4 linked regions of the Homo sapiens genome follow. The protein of the gene in region 1 interacts with the protein of each later gene in a pairwise test. Each region holds a gene or a part of one and is shown in the gene's direction. Other genes may lie near its edges. The genes, in order: STEEP1, KIF9, RPRD1B and HAT1.

Region 1 (7,323 bases):
ACAGTGTCTAGCTCTTGTAGCCCAGGCTGGAGTGCAATGGTGCGATCTCACCTCACTGCAACCTCTGCCTCCCAGGTTCAAGTGATTCTCTTGAGTAGCTGGGATTACAGGCACCTGCCACCATGTCTGGCTAATTTTTTTTTTTTTTTTTGAGACGGAGTTTCGCTCTTGTTGCCCAGGCTGGAGTGCAGTGGCACCATCTCGGCTCACTGCACCCTCCGTCTCCTGGGTTCAAGCGATTCTCCTGCCTCAGCCTCCCGAGTAGCTGGGATTACAGGCATGCACCACCATGCTCAGCTAATTTTGTATTTTTTTAGTAGAGACAGGGTTTCTCCATGTTGGTCAGGCCGGTCTCAAACTCCCGACCTCAGGTGATCCGCCAGCCTCGGCCTCCCAAAGTGCTGGGATTACAGACGTGAGCAACCGCACCCGGTTAATTTTTGTATTTTTAGGAGAGACGGGGTTTCACCATGTTGGCCAGGCTGGTCTCGAACTCCTGACCTCAGGTGATCCACCTGTCTTGGCTTCCCAAAGTGCTGGGATTACAGGCGTGAGCCACCGTGCCCGGCCAGGGCGGAGACTTTATCTGCTTTGTTGTTTGCTGAATCTTTAGCACAGTGTTAGAACAGTGCCTGCTACCTAGAGGGCCCTCACGTATTTATCGAAGAAATTAATTCTTGGTAAGGAGGTGTGGTGGAAACAGCATGTGCTTTTGAATCACTTAGAGTTGGGTCTGAATTCTTGTTCTGCTTCTTATTAGATGCATGGTATATCTCTTACCCTTTTTAACCTCAGTTCCTTCATCTTTAAAATAGGAACAACAAATCTTTACTTTAACCATTCATTGTGAAGAGTAAATGAGCTGACATGTAAACTGCCTAGTGTTCTCTAACTCCTCTCTTCACCTCCTCTATTCATCTTGAATTACTCTGACCACTTGACTTTCTCTGTGATCCTTTAGGTGCTTAATTTGCATTATATAAATTTTCTTTTTTTTTCTTTTTTTTTTCTTTTGAGAGACGGAGTTTTCCTCTGTTGCTCAGGCAGGAGTGCAGTGGTGTGATCCCAGCTCACTGCAACCCTCTGCCTCCTGGGTTCAAGCGATTCTCCTGCCTCAGCTTCCCAACTAGCTGGGACTACAGGTGTGTGCCACCACGCCCTGCTAATGTTTGTATGTTTTAGTAGAGACGGTTTCGCTATATGTTGGCCAGGCTGGTCTCGAACTTCTGACCTCAGGTGATCCACCTGCCACCTCAGCCTCCCAAAGTGCTGGATTACAAGCGTGAGCCACCGCACCTGGCCCATTATATCAATTTTCAATCTGCTTTACAACTGTACCTAATTTGTTTACTGTGTTTTCATTGTTTTCAGATTAAAATTCCTCCAACTAGGATGGATCATTTGCATACTATATAATCACCCTCTCTCTTCCTTTTTTTTTGTTTTTTGACGGAGTCTCGCTCTGTTGCCCAGGCTGAAGTGCAGTGGCACAATATTGGCTCACTGCAACCTCCACCTCCTGGGTTCAAGCAATTCTCTCGCCTCAGCCTCCCAAGTAGCTGGGCCAGGCTGGTCTTGAACTACTGACCTCAGGTGATCTGCTCGTCTTGACCTCCCAAAGTGCTGGGATTACAGGCATGAGCCACCTCGCCTGGCCTCTTTTTTTTTTTTTTTTGTAAAACAGAGACAGGGTCTTGCTGTGTTGCCCAGGCAGGAGTACAGTGGCTATTCACAGGCACAATCATGGAACACTACAGCATTGCACTCCTGGTCTCAAGCAATCGCCCTGCCTCATTCTTCTGAGTAGCTGGGACTATAGGTGCATGCCACCACGCCCAGCCTCTCTCCTTTTCTTAGCACATACCCACTTTTCCCAGTGCTTCCTTGTAGGCATTCCAGTATGCTTGATTGTGTCTCCTGATTCTAATGCATTATAACACAAACCAAGTGTACTATGATCACAGAAATACTTACAGAAACCTGAATTGCAGTATTGGGAAGGACTTTTGAGATAATATCATCTAACTCATCTTTCAAATGAGGCAAAAGTCTCCAAAGGAGGAAGTGATTTGCCAAAGATCACCAGGGTAGTAAGAGAGCTGGGTCCAAATACCAAGGTCTCCTGATAGCAAGTCATTTTTAGTTGGAACATTCAATAATAGGTTTCAATAAGCATAGTAATTGTAGTAGAAAATTCTAGTGCTAGGGATCCCACTCAAAACTTCTCAGGATATTTTGCAGTGACTCATTTGCTATATTTTGCCATGACTCTAGTGACCAAATCTCTCCATTCCTTCAGACTGCCAGTTAGAGAAATTGCCCATGAGGCCCCGGGACCGGTCCCGTGTGATTGATGCTGCCAAACATGCCCATAAGTTTTGTAACACAGAAGATGAGGAGACTATGTATCTGCGGAGGTAAGAGGTTGATGCTCCCTGTTTAGGATTTCCCTATTGTGTTGGAGTCTGTTTCTGAATAATATAAATATCACATCTATTGTTGAACAGGTCAGTTGGTCCCAATACTTTGACATTTGTGGTGGTTTTCTAACTTCTGTTAATGTAGTAATATCTTTATTGTGCTTTGTTGAAATGGTGCTCACATGTGATTCCATTGCTTTTTTTTTTTAATTGAGATGGAGTCTCACTCACTCTGTTGCTCAGGCTGGAGTGCAGTGGTGTGACCTCGGCTTACCGCAACCTCCACCTCCCAGATTCAAGCAACTCTCTTGCCTCAGCCTCCCCAGTAGCTGGGATGACAGGCGTGCGCCACCACGCCCAGCTAATTTTTGTATTTTTAGTAGAGACGCAGTTTCACCATGTCGGCCAGGCTGGTCTTGAACTCCTGGCCTCAAGTGATTCTCCCTCCTTGGCCTCCCAAAGTGCTGGGATTACAGGCATAAGCCACTGTGCCCGGCCCCTCCATTGCCATTTGATAGCCGTAGTTTGTTTACAATTTACAGGTTTGAATGAGTTCATTCAACCTGTAATCTTGTGGAGCATACCGTGTGCCAGGCACTGAGCTAGGTACTGGATCTGTGAAGATGAATAAGGTATGATTTTTACCATTAAAGAGCTCATGACTTTGAGGGAATGACTCCTATTGTGATAGGAAAAAATACTGGTCTTCTGAACGAAAGGAAAAACAGGTGGGAGTGGGTCATTTGTCCTGAATGGTGGCCAGGAAAGGCTTCAAAAGATGATGGCATTTGTGTTTAGCCTGAACTAGGATTTCACCAAGTAGATGAAGGGAATGAAGAGCATTCCAGGTGGAAGGAATATGGAAGCATTAAAAGCATCAAACATGGTGTGCTTTAGAAACCTGAATTGTCGTTTGTGACTGGAGCACAGGTTACTTTACAGGAACGGCATCATGCATACTAGGGTGAGGACAGAGTAAAGTGCTGAAGTGGACAAGTTTGGCCTTAATCTGTAGGCAATGAAGAGCCATCTCCGTTTTTTTTTTTTTGACGGAGTTTCGCTCTTGTTGCCCAGGCTGGAGTGCAATGGTGTGATCTTGGCTCACTGCAACCTCCGCCTCCCAGGTTCAAGCGATTCTCCTGCCTCAGCGTCCTGAGTAGCTGGGATTTCAGGCACCTGCCACCACGCCTGGCTAATTTTTTGTATTTTTAGTAGAGATGGGATTTCACTATGTTGGCCAGGCTGGTCTCGAACTTCTGGCCTCAGGCGATCCACCTGCCTCTGCCTCCCAAAGTGCTGGGATTAGAGGGGTGAGCCACTGCGCCCGGCCTATCTCTGTTTTTTAAGCAGGGGTGTGATGTGGTTAGCTCTGTTTTAGATTTGGGAGTTTGGTATATATGGGAAATTGAAACCTGGGAAGGGATAAAATTACAGAGTGTGGAGCAAGCAGATAGGACTGAATATTTAAAAGGCAGACAAAAGAATTGGAACAGAACCAGAAGAACCTGGTGATGCAGAAAATAGGAGAGAGTATCAAGAAGTGTGTGGGGGTGTGGCTAGGGGACGGTCAGCAGCAGGTGCTAGAAGTCATGGAAAGGTCAATCCTAGGGAATTAAAAAATCCATCCATTCATGCAACAAATATTTCATTTACCGAGCTCCTACTATGTTCCAGGTACTATCCTAGAAGTCTGGAATATATACCAGTGTATTAGTTTTCTTTTTTTTGGAGACGGAGTCTCGCTCTGTCACCCAGGCTGGAGTACAGTGGCGCGATCTCGGCTCACTGCAAGCTCTGCCTCCCAGGTTCACGCCGTTCTCCTGCCTCAGCCTCCCGAGTAGCTGGGACTACAGGCGCCTGCCACCATGCCCGGCTAATTTTTTTTTGTATTTTTAGTAGAGACGGGGTTTCACCGTGTTAGCCAGGATGGCCTCGATCTCCTGACCTCGTGGTCTGTCTGCCTTGGCCTCCCAAAGTGCTGGGATTACAGACGTGAGCCATCGTGCCCGGCCGCCAGTGTATTAGTTTTCTAGAGCTGCCATAGTAAAGTACTACAGCCTGGGTGTGGTGGCTCACGCCTGTAATCCCAACACTTTGAGAGGCTGAGGTGGGTGGATCACTTGAGACCAGGAGTTCGAGACCAGGCTGGCCAACGTAGTGAAACCCCATCTCTACTAAAAATACAAAAATTAGTTGGGCATGGTGGCGCGTGTGCCTGTAATCCCAGCTACTCGGGAGGCTGGGATAGGAGAATTGCTTGTATGGGGAGGCAGAGGTTGCAGTGAGCTGAGATTGTGCCACTGTACTCCAGCCTGGGCGACAGAGTGAGACACTGTCTCAAAAAATAAAAAAAAAATAAAGTACTACAAATTGGGTGGCCTAAAACAAGAGAAGTTGTTTAATAGTTGTGGAGGCTAGAAGTCTGAAATCAAGGTATTGGTAAGTCCATGCTCTCTCTCAAGATTGTAGGGGAGAATCCTTCCTTGCCTCATTCCTGGTTTTTGGCGTTTACCAGCAATCCTTGGCATTCCTTGGCTTGTATTGTAAATGCATCACTCCAGTCAGTGCTTGTATCATCACATGGCATTCTCCCTTTGCCTGTTCTTTTCTTATAAGGGCACCAATCATATTGGATTAAGGGCCCATCCTCCTCCAGTATGACATCATTTTAACTTAACTAATTATGTCTGCAACATCACTATTTCCAAATAAGGTCACATTCTGAGGTTCCTGGATGGATGTGGATTTTTTTTTCTTTTTTCTTTTTTCTTTTTTTTTTTTTTTTTGAGATGGTGTGTGCTACCATGCCTGGCTAGTTTTTGTGTTTTTAGTAGAGATGGGGTTTCACCATGTTGGCCAGGCTGGTCTCAAACTCTTGGACTCAAGTGATCCTCCCACCTCGGCCTCCCAAAGTGCTGGGATCACAGGCATGAGCCACTGTGCCCGGCCAGAATGTGAATTTTTAAGGGTCACTATCTAACCCAGTACAACCAGTAAACAGCAAAGAATCCTGCCCTTATGAAACTTTAGTGTTGAACCAGAAAAAAACTATAGGCTGACATCTAGCTACATGTTTTCTTTCTTTCTTTTCTTTTTTTTTTTTTTTTTTGAGATAGAGTCTCGCTCTGTCACCCAAGCTGGAGTGCAGTGATGCGATCTCAGCTCACTGCAACCTCTGCCTCCTGGGTTCAAGTGATCCTCCTGCCTCAGCCTCCCATGTAGCTGGGATTACGGTTGTGCACCACTATGCCTGGCTAATTTTTGTATTTTTAGTAGAGACAGGGTTTCAACACGTGAAGCTGCTCTTGTGAGCCTCCTTCTCCTTCTTTGGCCTTCTCAATCCTTTGGATTCTTTTTCTTCTGCCTGCCCCTCAAGTATTGGTATTCCATGCGGTTCTGACCTTGCTTTTGTCCCCACTCTCTTTATGCCTTCCTTGGGCATTCTTGTCACCTTACATGGCATTAGTTACACTTTTATGCTGATGATAAAATCTAAATCTGCCTACTGTGCCTTCCTGTGTCCCAGAACTGTATAGCCAGTTGCCTACTCTACCTCTTCACCTGATGTCCTACTTTTCAGATCCAACATGATGAAGGCCAAACTTATCATTTCTCTACTGTGGACAGTACCACAGATCGATTCGCTCAGCACCACTCTGACACTCTTTTTTTTTTTTTTTTTGAGACGGAGTCTCGCTCTGTCACCCAGGCTGGAGTGCAGTGGCGTGATCTCAGCTCACTGCAAGCTCCGCCTCCCGGGTTCAGGCCATTCTCCTGCCTCAGCCTCCTGAGTAGCTGGGACTACAGGTGCCTGCAACCACGCCCGGCTAATTTTTTGTGTTTTTAGTAGAGACGGGGTTTCACTGTGTTAGCCGGGACGGTCTCGATCTCCTGACCTCGTGATCCGCCCACTTCGGCCTCCCAAAGTGCTGGGATTACAGGCGTACTCTGACACTCTTCTGCTACACCCTCCTATACACGAGTGTCTGTAAAGTTAGGGTGCATATTCCAGTCCCCTTCCCCCCAACAACTAAGATTCTGAATATGACTTAGCTTTGGCCAAGCAAAAGAGATGGAAGTAGATGTCAGCTGATGGGTGACTTCAAGCCTTTTTTACCCTTTATCCTTATTCCATCCTGCTTCTTGGGAAATGGACATGATAATTGGAACACTAGCAGCCAGCCTGGAACTGGGAAGGAGAGGCCACAAGAATTGCAGAGCCTTTGCCCTGCTATCCTTGGGTCTCAACCAGTGCTCAGAACTGCCTTCCTCCTGATGTTACATGAGAGAACAAGCTCTTTTGTTGAAGCCATTGCAGTCAGGTCTCTATTACTATTAGCCAAATGCTAGTCCTTCTTTTCCTTCTTCTTATGATGACACCAGGATTCATGCAGTGGCCCCAGCCAGAAATCTAGGAGTCAGTCTCTCTTTGTCTCATCTGTCCCCACCATCCCACCATCATCCCCTGCATACATCTAGTCACTCACCATGTACTGTCGATTCTGCCTTCTAATCTCTTTTGTGGCTGCTGCCTCCTGTTCAGCCCTGCTGCACTGCCGTTATTTCAGTACCCAAAATCACTTACTTAGACTACTGAAGTGGCCTCTTACCTGGTCTTTTGGTCTCTAGTTTTGCTCTCCTCCAGTCTATCCTCTACTGCTTGAATTATCTGAAATACACATTATGTCAGTCACCTGCTTCAAATCTGTTAGTGACCCTTCATCACTTATAGCAATGCCTTTGAAACATTTTTAGATGAAAAATCCTTTCTTTAATTAAATTCTTACCCAGAAGTATAAATAAGACTGATAAGCAGAAAGCTGCTCTGAGTGGGGAGGAGTCTAGCCCAATCCATTAAGGACTCCTCCTTCCTCCCCATCTGATTTCATTTAGGGATCATTGT
Region 2 (7,323 bases), on another chromosome or scaffold:
CCGGGGGGTCTCAATAGCATAACTGAAGATAAGACAGAAGGGCCTTCCTTTGGGCCCCACTAGCCTGGGTTCTGTAAGGACCCTCTGGTCGGAGGTAGGAGGCAAAAGCTGCCAAGAGGCAGCTTTACAGCCCTGTCCTATAAGAAGTGTTATAGGACAGGATTTTTTGCAGCCCTGTCCTATAAGAAGTGTATACATTCCTCTAGTATGTGAACCATCCATGCTCCTGTTTTTGGAGCAATACCCTTAATATCCCACTGTCAAAGCTTCAGTATCTCAGCATCTTAGACTTTAGTAATCTAGCCCAGTGCCACTAATAGAAATATACTGTAAGTCACATGCAAATTTGAGTTTTCCAGTAACCACATTTTAAAAAGTAAAAATAAACAGATGAAATTAATTTTAATGATATATTTTATTTAACTAAATATATTTAAAATATTTCCGCATGTAATCAATATAAACTTATTGAGATAGTTTACATTCTTTTTCTCATACTAAGTCTTTGAAATCCAGTACATATTTTATACTTGGGGCACATTTCAGTTTAGGCATAAATATTATCAGAAATGCTTGATCTGTATTTAGATTTCATAAAATGTTGAAAAAGTAGATTTACATACCCAAGTTGTTCCAGACATACTTAAAGTTTACCAATAACTGAATTGCATCAGTTTTTAAATCTAACTGTAATTAAAATTACATAAAATTTAAAATTCAGTTCATTTGTACTAGCCACATTTTAGATACTCAGCAGCCATCTGTAACTTGTGTCTACTATTTTGAACAAAACCGGTCTAAATTCTTAGAGGAAGGCAGGACCTCAGGAATTATCCCTTCCTTGATAAGCACTGGGGAGGGAATTAGGAGTTGAGAAGGCTGAGTTCTGGCTTTACTTCTACCCTTACTAGCTGAGTGACCAATAGACAAATTATTTATTTATTTATTTATTTATTTTTTAGATGGAGTCTCACTGTCACCCAGGCTGGAGTGCAGTGGCGTGATCTCATCTCACTGCAAGCTCTGCGTCCTGGGTTCAAGAGATTCTCCTGCCTCAGCCTCCCGAGTCGCTGGGACTACAGGCGCACGCCACCACGCCCAGCTAATTTGTGTAATTTTAGTAGAGACAGGGTTTCACCATGTTGGCCAGGATGGTCTCGATCTCCTGACCTCATGATCTGCCCACCTCCGCCTTCCAAAGTGCTGGGCTCACAGGTGTGAGCCACCACACCCGGCTGACAAATAATTTTATTTTGTAGTGCCTTCCACAAATACGTATTGCTCCTGCACTGCCTCATTCACAGAGATTTATATGTGGATGGAATTAAATAGATTTGAAAGAGGCATATAAATGATGAGACTCTAAAATAAGAAATCCTCACTCCAGAGTCCTTTCCACTCATTATGCCTCTACTTCGTGAGATGGTTTAAGTGTTAGCCAATCTGATGTCAAGCCTCAAAACACTACAAGATGATACTAAATATCACCCAATTCCTTTAGGACAATAATTATTCTATACATCTTGATGTTCCCTTCTGAGTTAGGAAGCCCCCCTTATGCTAGTTGGCTGTTGGGGTTCTGCTCTTGGTGACCGCTGTACAATCTGTCATCTAGGTTTTTAGGATGATCGAAGAACGCCCCACACATGCCATCACTGTGCGTGTTTCCTACTTGGAAATCTATAATGAGAGCCTGTTTGATCTCCTGTCCACTCTGCCCTATGTTGGACCCTCAGTCACACCAATGACCATCGTGGAAAACCCTCAAGGAGTCTTCATTAAGGGCTTGTCAGTTCACCTCACAAGTCAGGAGGAGGATGCATTCAGCCTCCTTTTTGAGGTGAGATAATAAAACCTGAGGGTTCCTTTCCTTCTCTCCCTCCCTGCCACCCTCCTTCTCAGCTTTTCTTTTTCTTTTTCTTTTTCTTTTTTTGAGACAGGATCTTGGTTTTTCTCCAAGTCTGGAGTATACTGGCATGAACATGGCTCACTGCAGCCTCGACCTCCTGGGCTCAAGTGATCCTCCTGCCTCAGCCTCCCAAGTAGCTGGGACCACAGGAGCATGCTACCATGCCCACTTAATTTTTTTTTTTTTTTTTTTGTAGAGACAAGGTCTGGCCATGTTGCCCAGGCTGGTCTTGAACTCTTGGGCTCAAGCGATCTTCCCACTTCGGCCTCTCAAAGTGCAGGGATTACAGGCAAGCTACTGTGTCCAGCTAGTTTTTTACTTACTTTGATTATCAGAATGGAAATTAATATATGCACATTTAGCAAGTTCAGATAGTGCTGAAAAAAAAAAGGAACAAAAAAGAATTTTATTTCCTCTTCCTTTCCTGTTACGTAAATAAAAAGAAAAAATGATTCATGCATAATCTGTTTTTTACATAAGGCAACAATAATGTATATTTTAGCTCATTTCCTTCCAGTCTTTTTTCCTGTGCAGCTTTTTCTTTACATAGTTGAAATGATTCTTATGTCCCTTTTTTCAGTTAAATTATGAGCTCTTGTATGGAAAAAAATAAGGCCGGGTGCAGTGGGTGATGCCTGTAATCCTAGCACTTTGGGAGGCTGAGGTGGGTGGATCACCTGAGATCAGGAGTTTGAGACCAGCCTGGCCAACATAGTGAAACCCCATCTCTACTAAAAATACAAAAAATAAGCTGGGTGTGGTGGCGGGTGCCTGTAATCCCAGCTACTAGGGAGGCTGAGGCAGGAGAATCACTTGAACCCGGGAGGCACTGGTTGCAGTGAGCCAAGATCGTACCATTGCACTCCAACCTGGGCAACAAGAGCAAAACTCCTTCTCAAAAAAAAAAAAGAAAAGAAAAAGAGAAAAATAAGAATTAGCATCCTTACTATACAAAAGCTCTTAGAGCCAGGTGCGGTGGCTCATGCCTGTAATCCCAGCACTTTGAGAGGCTGAGGTGGGTGGATCACCTGAGGTCAGGAGTTCGAGACCAGCTTAGCCAACATGGTGAAACCTCATCTCCACTAACAATACAAAAATTAGGCTGGGCACGGTGGCTCATGCCTGTAATCCCAACACTTTGGGAGGCGGAGGCAGGCGGATCACAAGATCAGGAGATTGAGACCATCCTGGCCAACATGGTGAAACCCCGTCTCTACTACAAATACAAAAATTAGCTGGATGTGGTGGCGCTAACTCCCAACTACTCAGGAGGCTTAGGCAGGAGAATAGCTTGAACCCGGGAGGCAGAGGTTGCAGTGAGCTGAGATTGTGCCACTGCACTCCAGCCTGGCGACAGAGGGAGACTCCATCTCAAAAAAAAAAAAAAAAAAAAAAAAAATTAGCTGGGAGTGGTGGTGGGCACCTGTAATCCCAGCTACTCGGGGGGCTGAGGCAGGAGAATTGCTTGAACCCAGGAGGCAGAGGCTGCAGTGAGCTGAGATTAAGCCATTGCACTCCAGCCTGGGCAATAGAGTAAGACTCCATCTCAAAAAAATAAAATAAAGGCTCTTAGAAACCAGTCAAATGCACTGGCACAGTGGCTCACGCCTGTAATTCCAGCACTTTGGGAGGCCAAGGCGGGTGGATCACTTGAGCTCATGAGTTCAAGACCAGCCTGGGCAACACAGTGAAACCCCACCTCTACCAAAAATACAAAAATTAGCCAGGCATGGGGGCGCATGCCTGTGGTCCCAGCTGCTTGGGAAGCTGAGGTGGGAGAATCACTTGAGCCCAGCAGGTAGAGGTTTCAGTAAGCTGAGATCATGCCACTGCACTCCAACCTGGGTAATAGAGCAACACTCTGTCTCAAAAACAAGAAAAGAAATCAGTCAAGTGTATGTTATTCTTTTAGAAGTCATATAGGCTAGGAACTCTTTATTTTTTTATGCAAGTTCTCGCTGTGTTGCCCAGGCAATGGGCACATGTGCAATGGCTATTCACAGGCATGATCATAGTGCCTTCTCACAACATAGCAACTTACTTCCTCAACGTCAATAGCAGGATCTTTTTTAAAGGGCCAGAAAGACAAGGCAAGGCCAGGCGCGGTGTCTCACACCTGTAATCCCAGAGCTTTGGGAGGCCGGGGCAGGCGGATCACTGGAAGTCAGGAGTTCGAGACCAGCCTGGCCAACATGGTGAAACCCCCTCTCTATTAAAAATACAAAAAAAGAAAGACAAGGCAAGAGGGTACTTCAGAAGGGGGACTGAAGAGTAAAGGTGAATGACCTGCTGTGGTGGCTCATGCCTGTAATCCCAGCACTTTGGGAGGCTAAGGCAGGAGGATTGCTTGAGCTCAGGAGTTTAAGACCAGTCTGAGCAACATGGCGAAACCCTGTCTCTACAAAAAAATATAAAAAATTAGCCTGGCATGGTGGCCTGTACCTGTGATTTTAGCTACCTGGGAGGCTGAGGTAGGAGGATCACTTGAGCCCGGGAGGCAGAAGTTGCAGTGAGCCAACATCACGCCACTGCACTTCAGCCTGGGCAACAGAGTGAGAATGATCTCAAAAAAAAAAAAAAAAAGAAGAAGAAAAATGAAGTGACCCCTTATATTCTTGGTGAGTGTCACTGGATTTGTAGAACAGGCCTGACCATAGACTATAGCCTCACTACTATAAGCTATAGAGGTATGGCCACAGGAGTCTGCTAGGCTTGCTCCACAGCCTCAGGCCTTCCCTCTTCAGCGGGTGCTCTCCTCTCCCCAGGGGGGGCTGTCCCCCACCCTCACTTTGGGGCTTGTTCATAGCACTTCTCATCAGCATTTAAGGAGACATCAGTCTATCCCTCAAGGACCTTTTTCTCCAAGAACAGCCATTTCCACCACACCACCACCCTGTCTCTACAAAAAATTCCTTTTTAAGTATATTCTGGTCATAAGGCCTCCTCCTGTAAATTAGAGGTAAGGGCCTACTGTCCCTTTAAAAATACAAATTACTAGGTCAGGCACAGTGGCTCATGCCTGTAATCCCAGCACTGTAGCAGGCCGAGGCGGGCAGATCTCTTGAACTCATAAGTTCCAGACCAGCCTGGGCACATGGTGAAACCCTGTCTCTACAAAAAATACAAAAATTAGCCAGGTGTGGTAGTGCACGCTGGTAGTCCCAGCTACTCAGGAAGCCGAGGTGGGAGGATGGCTTGGGCCCGGGAGGCAGAGGTTATAGTGAGCCGAGATCGTGCCACCACACTCTAGTATGGGTGACAGACTGAGATGCTCTCCCAAAAAAAAAAAAAAAAAGGAGAACACAAAATAAATAAAAATATAAATTATTATTTTTATAGTAATACATGCTCACTAAAAAAAACCCACAAAACTGTATAAAAAAGATAAAATAACCTATAAACCCCAACCCAGAAGCAACTATTATTAACATCTTATTAGCAGAATTCTGCTTATTTCTTCTATGAATGCTTTTGCATTTCTTAGATCAGCTATAATATGATTTTGGATTCTACATTTCTCTCTGTTATTAAAAACTATGTGTCAGCATTTTCCTGGCTGCCCAATATCCCACTGTATACATAGATCATTCCCAAATTGTTGGACATGCAGGTTGATTCTGATTCAATATTCATAAACATTTTTAAGGCTCTTGATTTTTATTGTCACTTTGCTTTCCAGAAAGCTATACCAATTCACACTTCCCCAGCGGCGGGTGAAAGTGTAGATGTGGACTCCAATTTGACTCCCTTTCTATTAGTTTATAAAAGAGGTTTGCCTGGAAGGCCCAGCTGATCGCAGTGATATGAGACCACTTGTGTAGCTATTGGTATAATTGAAAAATGACCCAAGTGCCTTGTCGTTTTAGTTTTTCGAAATGTTGCCTATGATTCCCTTCCTCTTCAGGGTGAGACCAACAGGATTATAGCCTCCCACACTATGAACAAAAACTCTTCCAGATCACACTGCATTTTCACCATCTACTTAGAGGTAGGTGCAAGCTCTTTGATCAGCCCAGGCGGGGCAGTCAATTCCCACGGGGCCTGCTCAGTCAGAAACTTCTCCCTGTGACAGTCTAACTTCTGCTTGGATGTTTTGTAGGCCCATTCCCGGACCTTATCAGAGGAAAAGTACATCACTTCCAAAATTAACTTGGTGGATCTGGCAGGCTCAGAGAGGCTGGGGAAGTCTGGGGTAAGTGATGGGGGCTGGAGGTTGCTACTCAATAAACCACAAGCCCTTTTTCTGGCACAGTGCCTGCACATCTGGGCCATGACTCATTGGATATTTGTGAACACAGTCCTGAGCTAGGCGAAGTGGGACATGTGGGCTTGCTGGAGGGACAGGATTTGCAAAAAGGGAACGGCTATTACCTGGGGGCGGTTCCTACCTCAGAGGATTTTTGTAAACATTAAATGAGATAGTGCCCTCTACATTCTTAGCAAAGTGCCTGGCACTCAGTGCTCAGTAAATATTCCTTGCTGGTATAGCATTTCTCTGTGTGTGTTTTTGTTGTTGTTGTTTTGAGACACAGTCTCGCCGTGTCTCCCAGGCTGGGGTACAGTAGCACAAATACAGCTCACTGCAGCCTTGACCTCCCAGGCTCAAGTGATCATCCCACTTCAGTGTCTCAAGTATCTGGGACCACAGGTATGCACCACCATGACCAGCTAATTTTTAAATTTTTTTGTAGAGACGGGGTCTCGCTATGTTGCCAAGGCTGAACTTGAACTCCTGGGCTCAAGCGATCCTCCTGCTTTGGCCTCCCAAAGTGCTGGGATTACAAGTGTGAGCCACCACACCTGGCTTCTTTGTGAATGAATATGAGTATTCGTATGAGTATTTGCATGAGTATTTCAAATAAATATTTGTATGAGTGTATTAGCAGAAGTATTAACAAGAGTATTCAGATGAGCATTTGTATGTGCATTCATGAGTGTTTGTGTGAATATTCACAGGATTCTTTGCTCAAATATCTAGACAAGTATTTCAGTACATATTCATATTAGTGTGAATCTTTGAGTGAATGTCCATATGAATATTCATGTAAGCATTCACATTCGCATGAGTATTCACATGAGTGTTCACATGAATATTTCTGAGTTTTGGTATTACCATTATTAGCCCAAGATGGAATACAATCGCATGACATTGAAAGAAGACCCTGGTTCTGGGAAGGAGGCGCTGACCTGACCACAGACTTATAGCATTTCTCCAGACCAGGAAGACTGCTATTCTTAGTGGGGCAGCTGCTTTATTCCATCCAAAGTGGAACTGACCTTTGCTTTGTAGTCTGAGGGCCAAGTCCTGAAGGAAGCCACCTACATCAACAAATCGCTCTCATTCCTGGAGCAGGCCATCATTGCCCTTGGGGACCAGAAGCGGGACCACATCCCCTTTCGGCAGTGCAAGCTCA
Region 3 (7,153 bases), on another chromosome or scaffold:
AAAACAGACCTCAGCTAGCACACTCAGCCCCCTGGCCCTGTGATATCCTGCACTGCCTTGGGACTCTGCAGAGTCCCCACCAGCAAGAAAGTTTTTTACCTGATGTGGCCCTGTGACCTTGGATTTCTCAGCCTCCATAACTGTAAGAAATACATCCTTTTTCTTTATAAATTACCCAGTTTCAGGTATTCTGTTATAAGCAACAGAAAACAAAGACAGGGAATACCACAAATAGCTTTACCCATATAAATTTGACAACTTTGATGAAGTGGTTAATTCCTCAAAAAACACAACCACAATAGGAAAGAGATTATTTTAACAGCTTTATAACTTTTAAATAAACTGAATTTGTCACTTAAAAACTCCAGAAAAAAAAGGAAGAAGGGAAGGAAGGGAGGGAGGGAGGAGGGAGGAAGGAGGAAGGAGGGAGGGAGGGAAGCAGGGAGTGGAGGGAATCTCCAAACCAAGATGGTTTCATTGGAGAATTCCGCCAAACATTTAATGAAGAATTAACACCAATTCTGCACATACTCTTCTAGAAAAAGAAGAAACACTTTCCAATCCATTTTATAAAGCCAGTATTATCCTGATACCAAACCAAAGGCAATACAAAAATTAAAAAAATCTATAGACCAATTTCTCTCATGAGTATAGATGCAAAAATCCTAAAGAAAATATTAGGAAATTCAGCAGTATGTAAAACACACACACACACACACACACACACACACACACCATGATAAAGTGGGGTATATTTCAGAGATGCAAGACTGGCTCAATATTTGAAAATCAATTAGAGTTGTTAATACTAACAAGCTATTAACAAGCTTAAGAAGAAAAATCACATAATCATATCATCCTCACCTTTCAGACCTCTATATGTTGAAGAATCCTAGGACTCAGTCTCTTTTTACACCTTATTCCGTTATGACTCTCACATTTTTATCTCTAACCCAGATAGCTCTTCCTTGAATTCCAGACCCATAAACCCAACTGCCCCTTAGACATCTATACTCAGATAGGCATTTCCAAATGGACATGTCCAAATACAAATGCTTGCTCTTACTCTCCAAACCCACTCTTTTCTGTAATTCAGTAAATGGAAGCGCTATTCTTATAGTTGCTTAGGCCAAAACCCTTGGAGCTATCTCAACTCTCATATGTCTTTCACACCCCATATCCAATCTATCAGCGGATCCTGTTACCTCTTCCTCTAAAATATCCCCAGAACTGTCCCTTTCTTACCACTTCCACAGATACCACCCTGGTTTGAGTTATCCTTTCACCTGGGTTACTACAACAGCTGCCAAACTGGTCCTTCCTGCTTCTACCTTTGCACTCTTACTGTCTTATTTTCTACCTAACAGCCACAATGCTCCTTCTTTGTGCAAAACTGCCCAGTGGACTTCATTTCATTCAGAGTAACATCTAAAGTCTATACTATTGCCTACAAGTCACCATGTGATGCAGTCCCTTCGTACTTTTCTGAACTAATTTCCAGCCACCCTTCTAGTTCATATCACTCCAGCTTTATTGTCCTCTCTGCTGTTGCTCCAAAATGCCAACAATGGTATAAACTTGGTTTTCCCTCTTCCTGGAACAATGGCATATGGCTTGTCTCTCAAATGACATCTTATCAATGAGGCCTTCTCTGAGAAGCATAAGTAAAAGACTACCCACCTACACATATACATTCCTTATCCTCCTTATCTCCTTGATTTTTATTGAAGTTACTTACCACTTTCTGACTTATTCTAAACTTGCATGTTTGTTTTTCTATCTTTCTCAGTAGAAAGTAAGTTCCTGAGAACGTGGATTTTGTCTGTTAGCTTAGAAGAGTGCTTTGGACATAGGTGCTGAAAAATTATTTTCCGAATGAATGAATAAACTATTGGTTCAGGAGGCAAGAATTTGGGATCAGACATAAGATAACCCTAATTTGACTCCTGGCTCTGCTATTTCCTAACTATGTCCAAGTACATAGGGTACTTAACCATGCTTTACATTTTCTCGTCTATCAAATAGTGATTGTAATAATTTCAACTCCTAAGACTGATGTAAGAATTAAATTTAAAAAGTATGTAATGTGCTTAATAGACAGTGACTTGGTATAAAAGTGCTCAGTATATGACAGTGTTATTAATATGGAAAGATGATCTAGATTTCGACACAAAAGCCCTCAGTTATGACTAGATACTCACTGTATGATTTTAGGTTACTCACCTCTTTTACACTAACTCACTTGATAAATCAGGAACTGGGGCCAAAAAGATGGCTAAGTTGCAGCCCCTTCCCTCAAGTCTTAGTAATGTGATCTTGGGTAGGTCACTTAACCTCTCTGAGCCTGTTTCCTACGCTGTCCAAAGGGGGATAATATAATACCTCACAGCTTTGTTGTGAGGATTAAATGAGTTACTGTGTGGGAATTGTGTCTAGCACATAGTAACCTCTCACTGCGTTAGCTATGATTATGATTCCAGTCTGGAGGAAGGGTAAAAGCATGTAAGCAAAGAACTGCAATACAGTGCAATAAGAGCAAAAGCAGGCATCAACTAGAAGAACGTCTCCTAAACTAGAGTCTGCCCACAACTAGGAAGTTATACCACGATCAGGAAATTTTAAAACCCTCTTATGTCTATAACTTAACTCCCTACCATCACCCCCGTGGCAGTAAGAAAAACAAAATTTCTCTGCTGCTTTGATACCTGGGATTTAAAACTTAAAAAAAAAATAGGGTCAAGGTTTAGAGTCTCAGATAGTGTTTTGTTTTGTTTCAGAGAAGAGTCTCGCTCCATCGCCCAGGCTGGAGTGCAGTGGCACGATCATAGCTCACTGTAACCTCTAACTCCTGGGCTCAAGGTATCCTCTCGCGTAGCTGGAACTGCAGGTGAGCGTCACCATGCCTGGCTAATTTTCGCTGTTACCCAGGCTGGTCTTGAACTCCAGTCCTCAAGCTATCCTCTCGCCTCGGCCTCCCAAAGGGTTGGGATTACAAGCAAGAGACGTTGCGCCAGGCCTCAAATAGTGTGTCTCAACATGAGGTCAACAGACACATTGGGAAGGCTAAGTTAGTTCCCTCCACCTTTTCCCTAAAGTTAACACCTCACTTAAGTTCGAAAAAGTCAACTGGACCCGCAGACGGCAAAAGCAGCACGTAATAATACCCTGAGTGAGAACCCACTTAAGAGCCGAGAGCCCAAATGTGTGTTTCATGACGGCGCTGTTACAGACTAAAAGGTCAAAACAGGACATTAAAGGGTGCTCCGGGGGGCTGAGTAGGAGCTCACCAGGTGAGAAAGGGGATGTCACTTTCGGACAGAGAACGAGCGCCAGGGCGTGGAGGCGTGAAAAGGGCACGTGGGTGGCTTGGAAGAACCAAAACTAAGTGTTTTGGGGGACAGCCAGAGAGCCGAACACATATGGAGGAAAGATGCGGCCTGGGGCCCGCCAGATTAGAAAGGAAATCCCCCTCCCATATCCAGATCATGATCTCTCAGACTCAATGTCCCCTCAGGATACCCCTCTACAGGGTCCCAGCTGCTGGGCTCCCTCTGGTTCCCGCCACTCTTCCCTTACCTCGTCTTCCAGCCTTTCTCTCACTCTCCCGCCTCCTCTGCCTCGCCGGAAGTGACGCGCTAAGTAGCGCGCCGTATCGCGCCAGAAAGGTTCCGAGGGAGCGGGAAAAAGGGTTCCGGCGAGATCCACTGCGCCGGTGTGCAGGCTCGAGCGGTCAAAGCTCTTTCCGGGGGCCCGGGGAACTACTCTCCTTGCCTCGCTCTGTCTCCTTCGAAGTGCTCTGCGCGAGGTTCAGAGCGGCCGCCGCCTCCAAAGGGACGGTTTTCTAGAGCTCCGACGCCTCTCGGTGCCCCTCTGCTCCGGCCCTTGCCCTTTGACCTCGCTCTCGCGGCAGGGTGAGAGGTCGGGTGGCCATCTTGTGGCGGCGGCGCGGGCGGCTGTTACTGCGGAGACCCATCCCCTCCCCCTTCTCGCACCCCTGGCAGTCTGTCAGTCGGTAAAAAGTCCCGCAGCCTGTCAGGTGAGGCCCCGGCCTCGTGCCGTCGCTCTTCCCGCCGCACTGGGCGGCCCAGGCCGCTCCCTGCCGGGCCTCACTGCCGCCACCATGTCCTCCTTCTCTGAGTCGGCGCTGGAGAAGAAGCTCTCGGAGCTGAGCAACTCTCAGCAGAGCGTGCAGACCCTGTCCCTTTGGCTCATCCACCACCGCAAGCACGCGGGACCCATCGTCTCCGTGTGGCACCGCGAGCTCCGCAAAGGTAAACACCAAATCCCCACCCCCTGGACGGTCCCCGGATTGTCCTCTCGCCCACATACAACCTAGGCCCCTCTAAGCCTCTTCATTGAGCCTTGCTTTCCAGGCCTGATCGAGCTTCTGAGATGGGAGACAAAGTTAGCCCCATTTCTCGAAGAAGGAAACTGAGGCCCGGGAAGGTTTAAGGTACTTGCCTGAGGGTCCACGGACTGGGACTCAGGTGTCCAGACTTCTAGTTCATCAAGCCATTTTCCCTTCAGTTTCCCCCTGACATTTGTGGCTGTTATTATCTCGGCTGCATTCACTGCCGTACTGGCCCTAGCATGTCGGGCCCAGTGCTGGGTATTTGGAGTAAAAGCCAGTGGGCTCCGGAGTCAGACTCTGCAGATCGAGTCCTGGCTCAGCTATTTGCCAGCTGAATAATACTGGGAGAGTTTCTTCATCTCCCTGTGTCTCCGTTTTCTCATCTGTAAGAGGGAGGCAAGGATAGCTACCCCTTACAAAGCCTTTACTTCATACCAGTCACTATACTAAGACCTTTGTGTGTATCCTCGCACTCAGTCCTTAGAACAGCCCTGTGAAGTAGGTAGTCTCTCCCATCTTAGGTTAAGGGGCCACCCAGACCTTACCTCTCCTCTCCTCTCCTCTCTCATGCAGTTGTCATTGATTTCAGGCCCTGCTCAGGTTCTGACAGACAATTCATTGAACTCATTCTGTTATGTGCCAGGCACTGGCTTGGACACTTGCAGCATGTTGCCTCTGCCAACTGCCTAGAATTTAAGCCTGACTTTGCCGCCTTACTGACCCCAGCAACTTAACCTGTCTGTGCCTTAATTTTCTTATCTACAGAATGGATAACTGAAATTTACTATGTCTTTATTACATGCGAAGTGCAGTACTGATATCTTTACATACATTGCCATTAAAAAAAATTCTCGGAGCCCTATGAAGTAGGAACTTTGCAGAAGAGGAAAAACTGAGACTCATCTCGTGGTGAGGAGTAAACGGGATAATCCAAATGAACATTTAGCATGGGGTGAGGCACAGTGTAGGCATTCAGCAGATTATGGTGAGATGAGACTTTTGATTACTCACTGTGAGGCATGGTCTTTACCTTCAAGTTGCTTACAGTCTGGTGGGGAAAGATGGACACCTACACTCCCGGATGAGTTTCATAATGGAAGACTGAAGAAATGAAGCTCAGAGCTGCTCCAGACACCCTATATGTGGTAGGCCTTTATAGCGAAGTGGCTTTACAAGTGTTCTATACTATCTGTGAGTTGGGGACACCACAGATGTCCTGCTCTACAGGTGAGGAAACTGAAGTGGCTAAGTGGTATTTTCAAGGCTTTCGAACTGAACAGGCTCAGACTACAACAGGCTGGCAAACACCAAAATCTTCATGATTTTTTTCAGGAGACCCAGTTCTAGCCCTTTAGCAGGGACTGCCCCCAAATATCGCGTACTGTACTGAGATAGGGATCCCCTCAGCCCTTCGGGCAGTTCCGGGAAGAGGTAGAGCCTGGAGTTTATGGGGCCTTCTTCATGTACCCCACTGTGCCATTCAGAAATTATTTGAAGAGTGTGCTGAAATGTGAATTGCCACTGTACAGAATTCTATTGGGTGGGACCTCAAGAGGCAGTTAAAGTCCATCTCAGGTGTCATTTTTTTTGTTTTTTTTTTTTTGAGATGGGGGTCTCGCTCTGTCACCCAGGCTGAAGTGCAGTGGTGCGATCTCAGCTCACTGCAAGCTCCACCTCCCGGGTTCATGCCATTCTCCTGCCTCAGCCTCCCGAGTAGCTGGAACTACAGGGGCCCGCCACCACACCCAGCTAATTTTTTGTATTTTTAGTAGAGATGGGGTTTCACTGTGTTAGCCAGGATGGTCTTGATCTCCTGACCTTGTGATGCCCCCGCCTCGGCCTCCCAAAGTGCTGGTATTACAGGTGTGAGCCACCACGCCTGGCCAAGTGTCACTTCTTTTGTGACACTTTCTTGATTCCTTGCCTCACCCTAGTTGAGTTACTGAAAAAAAGCAAATTAGAGAGTACATTTGTGTATGAAGCTCCGTTATCCCTAATCTTACGTGGTAAAGCCTTATGTTGCAAGTAGGCTAGCATTATTATCCTCATTTTATAGATGAGATGATAAAGGTATAGAGGGATTAAGTGCCTTGTCCACAGACATACAGCTAGGACATGAGCCCAGGGCTGCCTGATGCCAAAATGTGTTCTTTTTCATGTACTCAGTGCCTCAATGCATTTAATAAGTGAAGGTGGTCACCTGACTGCAATCAAACTGTGGTGCTTTCATTTATTAGAATTAATGAGTGCCTCCCACCCCATCATACCAGTTTAGCATTTAATTTGTTCCTACTAGCTGTTCATTTGAACTGGTTACATCTTTGTCATTAGATTATGTTTTGAGAGAGGAACTAGACCTTCTTGTTTATTTGCAACACCACAGGATATCGCGTGGTGCCTGTTATATAGTTTAAAAATAGGAATTAAATCATGGTCTCTGATAGAATTTTCGTGGTTGAGTAAAGGATCTAAACAGCGCTATCCAATACAACTTTCTATGATAGCAGCATAAAGGATATAAACAGCGCTATCTAATACAATTTTCTGTGATAATAGCAATGTTTTCTATCTGTGCCATCCAACAGGTAGCCGCTTGGTATATGTGGCTATGGAGCACTTAAAATGTGTGACTAAGGAACTAAAGTTTTAAGTAGATAGAATTGAAAATTTAGTTTCCAGTTTTTACCAGCTGCAATTCAGGTGTTCCAATAGCCACACGTGGCTAGTGGCTAACTTACTGGACAGTGCAGAGTTAAAAAAAGATGCTCTTCCAAGCATCAATACCTAGCTTCCGAATATCCA
Region 4 (3,049 bases), on another chromosome or scaffold:
CCAGCCTGGGTGACGAGCAAAATTCCATCTCAAAAAAGAAGAAAATTTGTCATCTAGTTGCAGCTGAGTAGTGGGATGATTGGCAGAATATTTAATTTATTCAACATATAATTATTGAGTACAGTTGCTCAATGATAAAATGTTGTTGCTGCATTTATATATACTATACCTATAGGGTTATACATCACAATAGCTGGGAACATAAGTGACCAAGTTGATTCTACATTACAATTTGAGAAAGTAAATTAACTAACTGTATCAGGTACACATAGTTTTGGTTTTCCTTTGTAAATTTAAAGAAAATTTAAGTTTTATTTGCCATGGATTCTGCTTTATAGAGCCAGTCTTGAATGCTGATGGTTCATTGGCTGACACTACTTGCTGAATCCCAACTTTTCCTTCATAGCATCTTTTTACTTTGCAGTGCAACTGTATTTCCTAATTTGTCATTGTAATTCTGTTCACATTCTGAATATAAAATTATTATTTGCCTATGACTAAATCATTTTATCTTGAATTCATACACAGATGTATGAATAGTTCCTCATAGTGTCATTTCATTGCAGTTTAATAGTTTTTCTATTTTACAGACCATCATCTGCATATAGCAGGTTTGTAATAAATTATAATGGTCTCCTCAAAAGTTATCCAAAGTAGCATTTTATTATTTGATGTTATCAATTCAGAAACATCAGAAAATGGGTAAAAATGGTATTTTCCAAAGGTTTTGACCTTTAAGTAATATTTGTTAGCTAGAAAATGTCTTAATGATGAAATTTGGGCACAGAGAGCAGTATAGATGGCAACATTTAAGAGTTATTAAGATTTTACTAAAGTAAAATAATTTATTGAATTATATATTTTAGATATTAATGTGACTTTTATATAAAATATAACAAATGAAAGATGGAAATTCTGAGTACAAATAGTAGTCACACAGCTAATGCCAAATAATGGGAACCTCTGTAGTTCATAAGTGCAAGTATTTTCTACTCTTAAAGAATGATAATTCTTTTTTATATTATTATTAAGTACCTTTACCTGTCCAGCCAGTTCACCAGTCTAAAAGGCCAGAACTGGGCCGGGTGTGGTGGCTCATGGCTGTAATCCCAGCAGTTTGGGAGGCCAAGGTGGGTGGATCACTTGGGCCCAGGAGTTCTAGAACAGTATATCCGAAACATGAAAGCTTCATATTTGCAATAATGCCACCCAACCAGGAATCCTGGAGTTATTCTTCATTCTTCCTTCCTCATATCACCCAGTATTTTCTCCCCTAAATCTGCCCTGTCCTCTCCATCTCTGCTGCTGCTGACTTGATCTAGGCTTTCATCAACTCTGGCTTGAACTACTGCAGTAGCTGCCCAGTCCTCCAGTCCCATCCTAAACATCTCTGACACAGTGTCCTGCATAAAAGTTGTTATCAGCTACCTGTTGCAAACTCCTTAGCATAGCGGTATCCTAAGTCAAACCAGGAGGGTTTAGTATGATAATGTATGTCTGGAACTTAATAAAGACTCAAATGCTATTTAATATATTTTTAAAGTATAGCAGTTTTCCATTTGTCTTTCTGAAACATTTCTAACAGTTTATGTTAAAATTAGCATGTGGCCCGTAAGTACTTCACTGGGTGGAATTTAAAATGTAATTAATTAATGACTGAATAGTAAAATGAAGAATAATAGCACTTAATCTCAGTTGTCTTTCTTCAGCTAATGTCTTCTATCTATTAAGCAAATATTTGAGTGTCTATACTGCCCAGAGTTCTTTAAAGTTTTGGAGGGGGCTGCTAGTCACATGTCTGTATTTACCATCATTGGACACAAATACCAGGTCTTCTTGTTAACTCTTTTTAGAGGGTTTGCAATTCATGGTTAACATTATGTTTAAGCTTCCTTAAAAAACAAAACAAAACAAAAAAAAAACATTGTGGGACAAGTTTGGGCGTATTCATACTATTCTTATTTTTAACATTGGAGACTTAAAATTGTAAGACTATAAGGAAATATATTTACTTTCTTCGTCTAACAAATAATTGTTTGTCACTTAGAAAAAGCAGAGAGATCTTGCTAAGATGAGAAAATGTCTCAGACCAGAAGAACTGACAAACCAGATGAACCAAATAGAAATAAGCATGCAACATGAACAGCTGGAAGAGAGTTTTCAGGAACTAGTGGAAGATTACCGGCGTGTTATTGAACGACTTGCTCAAGAGTAAAGATTATACTGCTCTGTACAGGAAGCTTGCAAATTTTCTGTACAATGTGCTGTGAAAAATCTGATGACTTTAATTTTAAAATCTTGTGACATTTTGCTTATACTAAAAGTTATCTATCTTTAGTTGAATATTTTCTTTTGGAGAGATTGTATATTTTAAAATACTGTTTAGAGTTTATGAGCATATATTGCATTTAAAGAAAGATAAAGCTTCTGAAATACTACTGCAATTGCTTCCCTTCTTAAACAGTATAATAAATGCTTAGTTGTGATATGTTAATGTGTGATGATATGATTCTTAAATACTTACAATAAACCTCATTCTTAAATACTTATCATTCCTTCCACACTTTGCTTCTAAGATTTTACATCTGACACCTTTAAAACATTTCTTTAAGGTTATCCTGGTAATTTTATTTTTTCAATATGATTTTTCTTTCTTTTTTAACTTTTAGATTCAGGGGTACATGTGGAGGTTTGTTACATAGGTAAACTAGTGTCTTGGGGGTTTCTTGTACAGATTATTTCAACACCCAGATACTAGGCCTAGTATCCAATAGTTAATTTTTCTGCTATTCTCCCAACCTCCACCTTCAAGTAGGCCCCAGTATCTGTTGTTCCCTTCTTTGTGTCCATGTGTTCTCATCATTTACTCCCACTTGTTAAGTAAGAACATACAGTATTTGGTTTTCTGTGCCTGTGTTAGTTTGCTAAGGACAATGGCTTCCAGCTCCATCCATGTCCTGGCAAAATACATGATCTTGTTCTTTTTTATGACTGCATAGTATTCTGTGGTGTGTATATACCACATTTTCTTTATCCAGTCTGTCACTGA

The links.
Region 2: the proteins of STEEP1 (region 1) and KIF9 interact in binary tests that used the Homo sapiens proteins (3 or more experiments, as listed by UniProt).
Region 3: the proteins of STEEP1 (region 1) and RPRD1B interact in binary tests that used the Homo sapiens proteins (3 or more experiments, as listed by UniProt).
Region 4: the proteins of STEEP1 (region 1) and HAT1 interact in binary tests that used the Homo sapiens proteins (3 or more experiments, as listed by UniProt).

Annotation. Positions count from the first base shown.
Region 1 is NC_000023.11:119,555,362-119,562,684, reverse strand, and holds part of STEEP1 (STING ER exit protein), read left to right. Parts: intron 1-2,299; coding exon 2,300-2,417; intron 2,418-7,323.
Region 2 is NC_000003.12:47,265,754-47,273,076, reverse strand, and holds part of KIF9 (kinesin-like protein KIF9), read left to right. Parts: intron 1-1,615; coding exon 1,616-1,840; intron 1,841-5,813; coding exon 5,814-5,897; intron 5,898-6,008; coding exon 6,009-6,101; intron 6,102-7,199; coding exon 7,200-7,323. UniProt on the Homo sapiens protein: Essential for normal male fertility and for progressive motility of spermatozoa.
Region 3 is NC_000020.11:38,029,828-38,036,980, forward strand, and holds the start of RPRD1B (regulation of nuclear pre-mRNA domain-containing protein 1B), read left to right. Parts: upstream 1-3,918; 5' UTR 3,919-4,120; coding exon 4,121-4,271; intron 4,272-4,278; exon of another isoform or gene 4,279-5,578; intron 5,579-7,153. UniProt on the Homo sapiens protein: Interacts with phosphorylated C-terminal heptapeptide repeat domain (CTD) of the largest RNA polymerase II subunit POLR2A, and participates in dephosphorylation of the CTD by RPAP2. Transcriptional regulator which enhances expression of CCND1.
Region 4 is NC_000002.12:171,981,138-171,984,186, forward strand, and holds the end of HAT1 (histone acetyltransferase type B catalytic subunit), read left to right. Parts: intron 1-2,047; coding exon 2,048-2,215; 3' UTR 2,216-2,549; downstream 2,550-3,049. UniProt on the Homo sapiens protein: Histone acetyltransferase that plays a role in different biological processes including cell cycle progression, glucose metabolism, histone production or DNA damage repair. Coordinates histone production and acetylation via H4 promoter binding.